2 linked regions of the Homo sapiens genome follow. The protein of the gene in region 1 purifies or fractionates together with the protein of each later gene. This does not show direct contact. Each region holds a gene or a part of one and is shown in the gene's direction. Other genes may lie near its edges. The genes, in order: KCNH2 and RNF207.

Region 1 (7,272 bases):
TAAGCAAGCCAGCTTCAGTATTCTATAGGACAACAGGCTGGGGGGACAGACCTGGCCCAAGGCCATAGGTGAGCTGGTGGCTGCAGAGCTGGGACTGGCCCCTGTCAGGTGTGCCCCATGCACGTGTGAGTTTGTACCCTGGGGCAGTGTTGCTCATGCTGTGTGCAGACTCAGGGGTAGGGTCACTGCTGTTAGGGGTGGTCCTGACACCTCCGCCCAGAGGCTTGACCTCTCAGGCACAGAGAAGAGCCCTGTCCAGGGGCAGCTACCTTCTTCTGCCCCCTTATCAGCAGGGGCCTGGCCAGTGTTTTCTTTTTTTTTTTTCAGTCCCCACTTGATCACTGAAGGGCCACCCACCCATGGGCATTTGCTCTCTGCCTTAAGGAGCTGGGCACTTAGACAGCAGACAGAGCAGAAATGGAGCCTGTGAGCCTGTCCATGTGTTCCCTCCCTGCCCTAGGCCTCAGCTGCTCCCGCAGCCCATCTGGTACCGCTGGAGGCCCTGTGTCCACCCCAGGGTGGTCAAATCTTTGACTATGACCCGTCTTGACTTCTAGTTATTTCCTCTAAGGAGATGTTCTCCCAGCAGCGCCATCTGTGAAGGTGTCTTGGGCAAGCCCAGCTTGAGTATGAAGGGGAGTCTTTGGGACTCATCAACTATGGCCTCCCCAACCCAAAAGCCTGAGGGTGTGGGGGCCTGGGAGTCAGTGCTTCTGGGAGCAGGGCCAGCACCTCTGGAATTCATGGGGGCTGGGCAAGGCCTTGGGTTCAGCTGGCTGCCCAGGGATGGCAGGGAGAGCTTGGGGAGGGGGCTTTTGGGTTGAGCTGCATGCCTGAGAGAGGATTCTAGGGAGACCCAGAAGCTTCTGGGACAGTGTGGAGAAGCTGGCCGGAGCTCTTCTTAGTTTGCCTTGGGAGCAAGAGGGACGTGCCTGCTGTCACCGGGTCCGGATGGCCAGCCTGCCTCTGTCTGATGACTGTGGAGGAGGCAGAGTGTGAGTGTGAGCTGGTACAGGGGCTGTGTGTGTCACTGCTGAGCAGTCCCTGTGTGCACGTCCCTCTGTATAAGTTGGGTGCCATCTCCTCCCAGCTGGGCTATGTCTTCTTTGTCCCTTTGTAAGAGGGTGGGAGGATGAGGACTGTGGGCTGTCCCGGACCTGTGTGGAGAGGGGGCTGAGGGAGCGAGGTGTGCGAGTGGAGGGTGGGAGTGTCTTGGTCTTTCTCCATCCTGGTTGCCTGGTGTCCTCGGGCCTGTGGCATGAAGAGGGGCTGGTAAGAACTGCAGTGACTACCAGTCAGTGGATTGGGGCTATGGCTCCTGGGGCCACTGCCCAGGTTGGGAGCTGTTGTCCTTGGAACCCTTTCCGGTCTGAGACTATGGCGTGTGTGGTTGGGTGTGTGGGCCAGCGTCTCAGGGCAGTCACAGTGGCAGGTCTGCATCTGCATTGCCGGCGGGGAGCAGCACTGGGTGTTCCTGCCGAGTGGCCTGAATCCACGTCTGCCGGGAAATGTTGGAACTGTTTGGAGCCAGTCCTGTGCTGTGTGGCATTTTGGGAACCATGATGCCCAAACCTGGGGGTGGCCATTTGCTGTGGTCGCTTGGCTGAGGGGTGGGCATTCTGATGGAAGCTTTTTTTGGCCTCCTCCTCATTCTGCTTGGCCCCGGCAGAGATGTCATCGCTCCTGCCCCCGAGGTCCCATGGCCTGCCTCACCCACACCTCCGCCTTCCCCGGGTGCAGGTCCTGTCCCTGGGCGCCGACGTGCTGCCTGAGTACAAGCTGCAGGCACCGCGCATCCACCGCTGGACCATCCTGCATTACAGCCCCTTCAAGGCCGTGTGGGACTGGCTCATCCTGCTGCTGGTCATCTACACGGCTGTCTTCACACCCTACTCGGCTGCCTTCCTGCTGAAGGAGACGGAAGAAGGCCCGCCTGCTACCGAGTGTGGCTACGCCTGCCAGCCGCTGGCTGTGGTGGACCTCATCGTGGACATCATGTTCATTGTGGACATCCTCATCAACTTCCGCACCACCTACGTCAATGCCAACGAGGAGGTGGTCAGCCACCCCGGCCGCATCGCCGTCCACTACTTCAAGGGCTGGTTCCTCATCGACATGGTGGCCGCCATCCCCTTCGACCTGCTCATCTTCGGCTCTGGCTCTGAGGAGGTGGGGTCAGCAAGGAGGCAGGTGGTGTAGGGAGAGGAGAGGCCAGGAATGTGGTGGGAGGTAGTGGGGTGGAGGGGGTGGCGAGGAGGACAGAGAAAAAGAGAGAGAGAGAGAAAGAGAGAAAGACAGTGGGAGAGAGACATGGTGGCAAGGCAGCTGCAGAGGCAAGGTGGGTACCCCAGCAAACCTATGCTCCTTCTCTCCACACAAGCTCCTCGCAGGTTGCAGAGGGCCACACAGGACACCTTTTTTTCTAATTCGTCCATCCCAAGGGGCCATTATTTTGTAGCGTCACCAAAGTGCCCTAGAAGCTGGTGGGAGTGGGCAGGCACCCTAGGGTGATCACTGCACCTGTCAGTGCCCCTGTTTCCTCATCCACACTATGGGGGCTGCCTCTGTCCCAAAGCTAGCACTAAGATTAATGAGACACCTGTGCTGGGCCCAGTGTGGGCTTCACCTCTTAGGAGGAGGGTCTAGGAAGTCTTTGGGGATCTGACCTCTGATGCTCGCTCTGAGGGCCGCAGCACCTCCCCTCCTCCCTTGCCCCCCTTGCCCCATCAACGGAATGTGCCCCTTCCCTGTCCCCCAGCTGATCGGGCTGCTGAAGACTGCGCGGCTGCTGCGGCTGGTGCGCGTGGCGCGGAAGCTGGATCGCTACTCAGAGTACGGCGCGGCCGTGCTGTTCTTGCTCATGTGCACCTTTGCGCTCATCGCGCACTGGCTAGCCTGCATCTGGTACGCCATCGGCAACATGGAGCAGCCACACATGGACTCACGCATCGGCTGGCTGCACAACCTGGGCGACCAGATAGGCAAACCCTACAACAGCAGCGGCCTGGGCGGCCCCTCCATCAAGGACAAGTATGTGACGGCGCTCTACTTCACCTTCAGCAGCCTCACCAGTGTGGGCTTCGGCAACGTCTCTCCCAACACCAACTCAGAGAAGATCTTCTCCATCTGCGTCATGCTCATTGGCTGTGAGTGTGCCCAGGGGCGGGCGGCGGGGAGAGCCCACGGTGGAGGAACCCAAGTTGGAGGAAACTGAGGCTGCTAGCCGGGCCAGAGTGAGGCCCTGGAACTTAGAGACTCCAGGGGCCACCATCGTGACATGGTTTGGGGGCTGGGTCACCAGGGCGGGGACTACTGAAGGGTGGGGTGTGCTGGAGCGCAGATGTACAAGGGCGTCTCGTGGGCATGTCGACGCTGAGACTGAGACACTGACCTGGTGCGGGGCCTGAGCAGGGTCCCTGTGGGTGGGTGGGGTCCCTGCAGAGGCTGACGGCCCCACGTGCCCACGCCCCCAGCCCTCATGTATGCTAGCATCTTCGGCAACGTGTCGGCCATCATCCAGCGGCTGTACTCGGGCACAGCCCGCTACCACACACAGATGCTGCGGGTGCGGGAGTTCATCCGCTTCCACCAGATCCCCAATCCCCTGCGCCAGCGCCTCGAGGAGTACTTCCAGCACGCCTGGTCCTACACCAACGGCATCGACATGAACGCGGTGAGGCCACCAGAGCGTGGCCAGTGGGTGGCAGGCTGGGAAGAGTGGGGTGGCAGAGGGGAACCTCTTGGCACAGCAAACAAGTCTCAGGCGGTCACAGTCAGTAGTAAGGACCCTGGAGGCACGTTGCCCCTTTTTGCCCATGAGGAAATGGAAGCCCTTGGAACCCCTTCCCTGGAGAGCTCCCCTTTTGGGGTGGGAGGTATATGTCACATAGGCGATGGGGTTAAATCCTTGTGACAGCCCAGGGCGGGAATGGTCTCTATGCCTTACAAATAAGAACATGGAGGTCTAGAGCCCAAGGGTGCTCGGCCAGGCATGGTGAAGCTGGAGTGGGGTCCCAGGTCCTTCCCAAGACACTGGGCCCCCTGATGCTTCCGAGATCTCCCAGGCCTGGAGGTTGAGATTTCTCTGACATGGAGGGGTGGGATGGTGGAGTAGAGTGTGGGTTGGGGGGTCCCAAGGGAGGGTGTGCTGAGCTGCCCCCACCCTGCCCCCAGGTGCTGAAGGGCTTCCCTGAGTGCCTGCAGGCTGACATCTGCCTGCACCTGAACCGCTCACTGCTGCAGCACTGCAAACCCTTCCGAGGGGCCACCAAGGGCTGCCTTCGGGCCCTGGCCATGAAGTTCAAGACCACACATGCACCGCCAGGGGACACACTGGTGCATGCTGGGGACCTGCTCACCGCCCTGTACTTCATCTCCCGGGGCTCCATCGAGATCCTGCGGGGCGACGTCGTCGTGGCCATCCTGGGTATGGGGTGGGGGGCGGGCACTGGACTGGAAATGCCCTCTGCAGCCTCAAGAGGTGCGAGCCTTCTGAATATGCAGTCACTGGGGCTGTGGACCTGGGACTGCCTGCAGGGTCACTGGGCTCCTTTAATTCACCTAAACTCAGGCCCTCCAAGCGGGGCCATGGAGAGGAGCCCCACGTGGGGTGAGGCTGCTGAACTCTGGGGTTCCCACATTCTCCTTCCCTTCAGGATCCGCCACAAACAGACACTTTTTGCTTCCTTAAAGTAGGATCAAATCTAGATCCTCTAGCCTGGGCAGTAGAGGAAGAAATGCTAGCCTGGAAGCTCGGCATTTGGTTTCACTAAGGGCCATGTGGTTCCCTGCAGCCTCATGCCTGGCCCCTTGACACATCCAAAGCAAAGGGAGTCCTGCCCCCTCCCCCCACTTCCTTTCTACCCTGCCTGTGCACAGTGGGTGGGTTGGTGTGTCTGGACACTGAGGACTTCCTCCCCCTTTGCCTGTCCTTCCCTCGGCCCTGTGTGCCTCAGGGCAGATATAGCAAGCTCTTTCGACCATAGTTGATGGTAGGACATTTTAGACTTTGTTTCTCAGCTCTGTACAAACACAAATACACACCCCCACAAAACTAAAATCAAAGTTTCACTACATAACACTGGGCCTTACTGCATGTGGTTCATTCTAGCATTTCTGTTCTGTGCTGTGCTAAGCTATACTACTGTATGTTCTTTCAGTAAAAAAAAAAAAAAAAAAAAAAAAATGCTGGTTTTGATTCACTACTGTGTTCTGATCTTTGGTTTGAAGAACATTGCTTATAAGGGTGCAGTGATTGGCTAAGAGGGTGTTTGGGACCTGGGGTTTGGGGTAGTCCTGCTGGCTGGGTCTCATTTGCTGGGAGACCCTGGGCTCCTGGCCCCTCTGGCACTGTCGTGCCTGCTGGGAGCTGAGGGAGGGTGGGCTGGCAGATTGCTTCCCCGGTTGTGTGGGTTGGGGGCCGGCTGGCAGGCGACCCAGCTGAGGGGACATGCTCTGCCCGGGGTGGGGATGCCGGGAGAAGGTGCCTGCTGCCTGGATGCCGCCCCCCGGGGCTGAGCTCCCTGTCCTCTCCATGGCCTCCAGGGAAGAATGACATCTTTGGGGAGCCTCTGAACCTGTATGCAAGGCCTGGCAAGTCGAACGGGGATGTGCGGGCCCTCACCTACTGTGACCTACACAAGATCCATCGGGACGACCTGCTGGAGGTGCTGGACATGTACCCTGAGTTCTCCGACCACTTCTGGTCCAGCCTGGAGATCACCTTCAACCTGCGAGATGTGAGTTGGCTGCCCTGAGCTGGACCCCATCCTCCTGCTTCCAGCTGTGTGGCTGCCCCTTTGCTGTGTGACATTGAATGTGATGCTTCTCTGTCTCAGTTTCCCTGTCTGTCAAATGGTATCATAGAGCAGCCTACAAAAGTCCCAAACTCAGTCTTTGCCTGGGGCAAAATCACATTGGGGGCAGGGAAGGGTTTTCCCAGAGCTGGGGCGCCCAGCCCTACTTTTTCTGTGTTAAGGAGGGAGCTTGGGGCCTGACCCCGGTGGGGCAGGAGAGCACTGAAAGGGCCCTGATACTGATTTTGGTTCCAGACCAACATGATCCCGGGCTCCCCCGGCAGTACGGAGTTAGAGGGTGGCTTCAGTCGGCAACGCAAGCGCAAGTTGTCCTTCCGCAGGCGCACGGACAAGGGTGAGGCGGGGGAGGGGAGGAAGGGGGAGGGCGGGGACAAGGTGAGGCTGGGAGCTGGAAGGCGGGGTGGGCCGTGTCTGCTTTACCCAGGCCTCAGACCTTCCCATCCCTTCCTCCAGTGTGCCCACTCCACACCCCAGCTGTCCAGATGCTGCCCATCTTTCAGGGCCCCTGCAGCTGTCACCTCCTCCAGGAAGCCCTCTTCCACCCTCCAGGGCAAGCCTAGGCTTTTTGGACTTCACAGGGCTGGGGTCTCTGTGAGCACTGAGGAGGAAAGAACATAGAACAAAGGAGGGCCAGGGAGCCAACGATGGGGCTGAGGCCCCGCAGTCCCAGAGATCCGCCAACCCCTGAAGCACCATTGCCAGTGCTTGGGCAGTCAGGGGGTCCTGGGAGTTCTTGGTCGGCTTGACAGTGGGTGCAAGATAGCAGAAGAAGCGACTGGGGACAAACCAGGGCTTCCTGCCCAGTCCTCTCTCGGGCTCGCTCCTGTCCCCTCCTCCACCCTCGCCCCCTCCTCTCTGTTCTCCTCCCCTCTCTGAGGCCCATTCTCTGTTTCCCACAGACACGGAGCAGCCAGGGGAGGTGTCGGCCTTGGGGCCGGGCCGGGCGGGGGCAGGGCCGAGTAGCCGGGGCCGGCCGGGGGGGCCGTGGGGGGAGAGCCCGTCCAGTGGCCCCTCCAGCCCTGAGAGCAGTGAGGATGAGGGCCCAGGCCGCAGCTCCAGCCCCCTCCGCCTGGTGCCCTTCTCCAGCCCCAGGCCCCCCGGAGAGCCGCCGGGTGGGGAGCCCCTGATGGAGGACTGCGAGAAGAGCAGCGACACTTGCAACCCCCTGTCAGGTATCCCGGGCGACGGGCGGGCGAGGGAGGACCGGGCGTGGCAGCGGTGGTGCGTCTACCCCGCTCACCCAGCTCTGCTCTCTGGCTGCAGGCGCCTTCTCAGGAGTGTCCAACATTTTCAGCTTCTGGGGGGACAGTCGGGGCCGCCAGTACCAGGAGCTCCCTCGATGCCCCGCCCCCACCCCCAGCCTCCTCAACATCCCCCTCTCCAGCCCGGGTCGGCGGCCCCGGGGCGACGTGGAGAGCAGGCTGGATGCCCTCCAGCGCCAGCTCAACAGGTGAGG
Region 2 (5,953 bases), on another chromosome or scaffold:
CTTCCAGGCTGAAGGTTTTTCTCAGATGTCAGGTCACCCTTGAGTATCTGCTCATATTAGGAGTGGGGCAGGGCTGGAGCCATGAGGCAGATCGGAAGCTCTGAGCACAAGGGTGGTACTTCCTTGGAGGAGATCAGGGTGGGTGGGCTCTTGCTTTTATGGAATGCCCCGAGGTCAGTTTTAGATCCCTTTCCAGTCCTTCCTGGGAAGCCTGTCTGTGGAGCATCTGTATGCACACTGGGTTTTCTGGTTTCAGTACATTTCTTGTCTGTGTGTGGTGACCTCTCAGAACCCCTCAGACTTCGGCTGCAGTGGGAGAGGACCAGTTGCTGAGTGGCAGGGATCTTGGCAGTCACCTGGAAGACTGGAAGGGGACATGAAGGGGGCTTCTGGGTGGGGACAACGTCCTGGGTGCTACCCACACAGACTTGTTCACACCATGAATGTATCAAGCCATACTCTACCTCTGCAGAAATAAATTGAGGCTGGAGCCTAGCTCCTGGAGGTTTCGGGCAAGGTGGGGCCGGCTCTGCTCCTCTTCAGAGCAGCCACTTTGTGGATGTCTGCAGTTGCTCCCTCAACCCACTTCACTCCAGGTCTGCGAGTCCACTCATCCACTGAGTCTGCTCTTGCTCCAGTCGCAGCGAGCCCTCCCGTAGGTCCAGGCCTCCTCCCTTGGCCTCTCAGCAGCACTCGTGAGCATCGCCATATTCATCTTTTTTTTTTTTTTTTGAGACCGAGTCTCGCTCTGTCGCCCAAACTGGAGTGCAGTGGCGTGATCTCGGCTCACTGCAACCTCCGCCTCCCGGGTTCAAGCGATTCTCCTGTCTCGCCCTCACGAGTAGCTGGGACTACAGGCGTGTGCCACCACACCCGGCTGATTTTTTTTTTTTTTTAATTTTTAGTAGAGACGGGGTTTCACCATGTTAGCCAGGATGGTCTCGATCTCCTGACCTCGTGATCCGCCAGCCTCGGCCTCCCAAAGTGCTGGGATTACAGGCGTGAGCCACTGCGCCGGGCTTTTTTTGTTCGTTTGTTTTAAAGACAGGGTCTTTCCCTGTTGTCCAGGCTGGAGTGCAGTGGCTCAATCACAGCTCACTGCAGCCGCGATCTCCCAGGCTCAATCAATCCTCCCACCTCAGCCTCCTGGGTAGCTGTGACTACAGGCATGTGCCACCATGCCCGGCTAATTTTTATAGTTTTGGTAGAGATGGGGTTGTGCTATGTTGCCAAAGATGGTCTCCAACTCCTGGGCTAAGTGATCCTCCCACCTCAGCCTTCCAAAATGCTGGGATTATAGACGTGACCGTGCCTAGCCATGTTAGTCTTCAGTACACCTTCTCTTTGCTGACAGCCCCGCGCTCCCATGCTCCTGCCAGCCTCTCCAGCCGTTCCTTCCTGGTCTCTGGCTGGCTCTGCCTCCTCAGCTCAGTGCCCAGATATGTTTTTCCCCAGGGCTCAGCCTTAGGCATTCTCCACAGCCTACGCTCACTCCTTGGGCGACCTCATTCAGTCCCTGGCTTTAAGACCCCATCATGACGCAGACCCCCAGCTCCCGCTCCAGCACAGTGCTTACCAGAGCTCCAGACTCATCTCCCACTGCCCCCTTCCTGGGCAGCCCTACCTGGATGTCTACAGGCACCGCGAGTTCAGCAGTGGCCAGAATGCTTGACGTCCTCCCGCAGACATGCTATTCCCATCTCCCCATCTCAGTGAATAGCACCACATTCACTCAGGTGAAAAGCCTGGGAGAAAGCCTGGATTCCTTTCACCCACTTCATTTCCAACCCACCCCCAAGTCCTGCTGGCTCTACTGTTCCTGCCTCAATCCACCCGCTTTGGTCTCTATTGCTCCCCTGAATCCAGATCATCATGGCCAACCCTCCTACCCCTCCAGCCGCCATGAAGCCAGGAGTCCTTTAGAAGTCTATGATTCCCATCACCGCGGGGCTGGACAGCTCTCTTGGGGACCTTCCCTGTGCACCTGTGACCGTGTCTGCCCCTCATAACACCCTAGTCACAATGCCCTTTCAGTTCCCCAAAAAAGCTAGACTGGTCCCACTTCTGGGCCTCTGCCTGGAGTATTCACAGACCCTCAGTCGGGCCCCAGCTTGGATGAGTGTCAGCAGAGGCCCTCCCCACTCCACCTGGATTAAAGCAGGTCTGCCTGGCGCCCTGCACCACACACCCTTCCCTCCCTCAGCGTGTCTGGCCCGACCAGCACGCAGCTTCCATGATGGCAGGGCCTGGCCTCTCCTGCACGCCATGCAGGCCTGGCCCTTGCCAACCACTGGACCTTAGTAAATATTTGAGGAGCAAAAGAATGAAACGCTAGGTGGGTGCATGAGTGGTGGCAGAGTCTGGTTCTGAGGTTTCTGAGCTTAAGGCCGTGCAGCAGCTGGCTCTGCTCCCTTGAGATTCTGGTGCCCACTCCCTTGCCAGGTTTCAGGCACCCGTGGATGAGCAGTCAGAGAGTCTACAGAACACGCACGACGACAGCAGGAACAACGCGGCCTCAGCCAGGTAAAGCAAGTCTCTCCACTGGAGAGTGTGCACGCGATGTGGCTTCTGAGGCCAACAGGACGACAAAGGAAACTCCAGGCTTTTCCCCTTTGGCGCCAGCTCTGGGGCCCTGGCTGGGCCTCTTTGTAAAACAAGGGGTCAGAGAGGCTCTCAGCCCAGATGAGTAACTTATAAGTGACCTCATAGATAAAACAGGTGTTCCTTTGATAGACAGAACCCCATTTTACCATTATAAACAGCCATGGCTGCTGCCTGCATCCACTTTCACCACTGGGAGCTGCACGTGCTTATGCTAGGGGACTCGGGTCACTGAAATGAGAAAGTGACCGAGGACTGTTCCCCAGAGCCAGCGCATGCGCCCCAGTACCTGCCAGAGGAAGACGGCTGTGCATTAACACCTACGACACAGTCACAGGCTGATCTTTGTGTATTTTGCTTTCAGGAAAACATAGTCACAGGGCAGAGGACAGCACTGTAGAATGAGAACCAGAAGAGCCTAGGGGTGTGCAGAGGGTTGCTGAAGTGGCCAGAGTCACAGCGCGGCTGGTGACAGAGCAGAGTCTGGCCCCAGCCTCCCCTGCACAGCCGCCATTTATTAGCTCAGATGCTTCCAAATTCAAAATGCAGTGTCACCAGAAACCGCTGACACAGGCTGATGGTTCAGCAACTCACAGCCATCCCCTGGGGATGGGCTCCTACTCAGAAGTAGACAAGGTCCTTTTGGAGACAGAGCCTTCCTGGTTCTCACTCACTGAGGCCTTCCAGGAAGACGTTCCATTCTGAGTGCTTTGGCCCAAGTGGATTTTAGTGCAGGGATATGGTGAAATGGGGGAGCGGGCTGGGCTTACATGAGGCTGTCCCTTTAGGAATAATCCAGGAAGTGTCCCGGAAAAGAGAGAGAAGACATCAGAGCCTAAAGGAAACAGCTGGGCTCCGAACGGCCTCTCAGAAGAGCCTCTACTGAAAAATATGGATCATCACAGATCCAAACAGAAAAATGGGGGCGATGTCCCCACATGGAGGGAACACCCGACTTAGCAAATGGGACCGGTCCCCAGGGTCAGGCTCTTAGAGCAGGCACAAGACTGGGACACTGGACAGAAGGTTGTTCCCATGATGGTTTTTTTTATTTTTTATTTTTGAGATGGAGTTTCGCTCTGTTGCCCAGGCTGGAGTGTAATGGTGCAATCTCGGCTCACTGCAACCTCTGCCTCCTGGGTTCAAGCGATTCTCCTGCCTCAGCCTCCCGAGTAGCTGGGATTACAGGCGCCTGACACCACGCCCCGCTAATTTTTTGTATTTTTAGTAGAGATGGGGTTTCACCATGTTGGCCAGGCTGGTCTCAAACGCCAGACCTCAGGTGATCCACCTGCCTCAGCCTCCCAAAGTGCTGAGATTACAGGGGTGAGTCACCGCGCCTGGCCAATGTTGTTGTTGTTTTTAAGACAGAATTTCACTCTTTGTTGCCCAGGCTGGAGTGCAATGGCGCAATCTCTGGCTCACCGCAACCTCCGCCTCCCAGGTTCAAGCGATTCTCCTACCTCAGCCCCCAGAGTAGCTGGGATTACAGGCATGTACCATCACACCCGGCTAATTTTTTGTATTTTAAGTAGAGAGGGGGTTTCTCCATGTTGGTCAGGCTGGCCTCGAACTCCCAACCTCAGGTGATCCGCCCACCTCGGCCTCCCAAAATGCTGGGATTACAGGGGTAAGCCACTGTGCCCGGCCGGTTATTTCTTTAAAAGGTAATCATTTGTCAAGAGTAAAACCCAGAAGCTCTGACAGGCCATAATTTCAGATCCTTTGGCTTGGGCAGTTTTGATTTTCCCCGTGTTTGCATGGCATGAAGTCTTCGTCCTTGTCACAGTAGCTTGGGATGACTCCCAGTCCACATGGAAAACATCAGGGAGTGACAATCCAGCAAGAAATCCCTCGCTAGTTCCACACCTACGCACCGAGCGTCGGTGTGCCAGGCCCTGTGCTGGGCAGAGTGTGGTATGTCAGGGTGTGCCGGTTTTAGGTAACAAGACTCCACCACTGAGTGGCACCTGCCCTATTGCAAAGGAATCCAGTTCCTCCGGAATAACAGTCCCACTGTTAACCTGGTGCTACTGGGAAGTTCCACACAGTAATCTGAGCAGTGACTCATGGAAGGATGAGGAACGTTTGCTCCAGCTTCTCTCCCTTTCCAGCAAGGGCAGAGCTCCTAAAGCCAGGGGTTAGCACCTGGCCAGCTTATGTGGCAGATGGTCTCAGTTACAACTTCGCTGCTTTCCCAAACTCCTGCAGCCCTCCTGAGTCCGACTTCCGTTGATAGCAAGGCACTGGGTGGCAGCAACCTTTTTTCTAGTAGTTTTTTCCCAGCAGTTTTCCATTTCTCCACAGTATCCTTTTCATTTAGAGGAGCTTAATAAATGCTTTTTAAAAAGTAACCCACGTGACGTAAAATTTTACAAGTTTTTGTGGCAAAATGATGCCCAGATAGTCACATTTAAGCAAATATTCAGCTTGATTCAGTGATTAACAGCAAATGGGTCTACGTGCTAACATGGCAGCACATTCAACACATAACACATCACTCACATTGACGTCCACTGTCCCTGCACCTGCTACTTCAGGGGCACTGAGGCTCCTGTTCCAAGGCCTTACAAACCTATGTGGTGGCCTGCAGGGCAAAAGGAATTATCATTACAACTGGTTAGAGGTAGGAATTCAGAAAGAAATTGAGGAGGCCAAACACACGTCGTTTGAGGCTAAAGGCTTAAGACGCTTCTTACCCAAGAGTGACCTCAGAGTTTCACATCCCAGACAATCACACTGTGGTTGAGTGAAATCAAGTGCAGTTTTATTTAAGAACTGGAAAGAATAATCAGTATCTGTGAAAGAAAATCCAATTTAGAATATTTAAATAAACATTTATGTAAAAAGAAGAGTAGAATAATTACTCCGTTCAGTTCCTCTCCTTGCAATGGGATAGGCTGCCTCTGCTGCAGATGGCTGGGTCTTCCAAACCCATGACAAGTGCCACGGCCTCTGCAGCAGTGGCCCAGAGAGTAGGCACTTCCCAGCATGACAGAGAGGCCGAGGCCTTCTAACCTTGCCAAACCACTACAAAAGCAAACTAGGGTGGGCAAGCCCAACTACCTAAGGCAGGAAGAAAGTGCAGTGAAGGGACAGTGGTGTGCTGTGCGTATCGTGGGGGTACTCCTAAGCAGCTAGCTGTTGGCGAGATCTTACAAAGCCTGATCGGCTAACGCAGCTTCCTGGTTTAGGAACATTTTCCCCGGTCGTATCAATCCCCCAGGTTGGTAAATGAACAGAAGGGATGAATAAAGCCTACTTTTTAGGCTCAAGGAGCAGCTCGTGAAGGGGTGGCAGGTGCGCTGCTGCCTTGTTTTCTGTCCTGCTAAGAGGCTCACCCCGCGACCTC

The links.
Region 2: the proteins of KCNH2 (region 1) and RNF207 purify together in Homo sapiens (affinity purification with western blotting; 2 studies listed by BioGRID). This does not show direct contact.

What each region holds. Positions count from the first base shown.
Region 1 is NC_000007.14:150,947,322-150,954,593, reverse strand, and holds part of KCNH2 (voltage-gated inwardly rectifying potassium channel KCNH2), read left to right. Parts: intron 1-1,740; coding exon 1,741-2,169; intron 2,170-2,758; coding exon 2,759-3,146; intron 3,147-3,473; coding exon 3,474-3,673; intron 3,674-4,173; coding exon 4,174-4,426; coding exon of another isoform or gene 4,427-4,695; exon of another isoform or gene 4,696-5,185; intron 5,186-5,544; coding exon 5,545-5,738; intron 5,739-6,050; coding exon 6,051-6,150; intron 6,151-6,715; coding exon 6,716-6,988; intron 6,989-7,079; coding exon 7,080-7,266; intron 7,267-7,272.
Region 2 is NC_000001.11:6,215,847-6,221,799, forward strand, and holds the end of RNF207 (RING finger protein 207), read left to right. Parts: intron 1-2,442; coding exon 2,443-2,523; intron 2,524-3,389; coding exon 3,390-3,561; 3' UTR 3,562-5,453; downstream 5,454-5,953. UniProt on the Homo sapiens protein: Plays a role in cardiac repolarization possibly by stabilizing membrane expression of the potassium channel KCNH2/HERG, or by assisting its synthesis, folding or export from the endoplasmic reticulum, in a heat shock protein-dependent manner.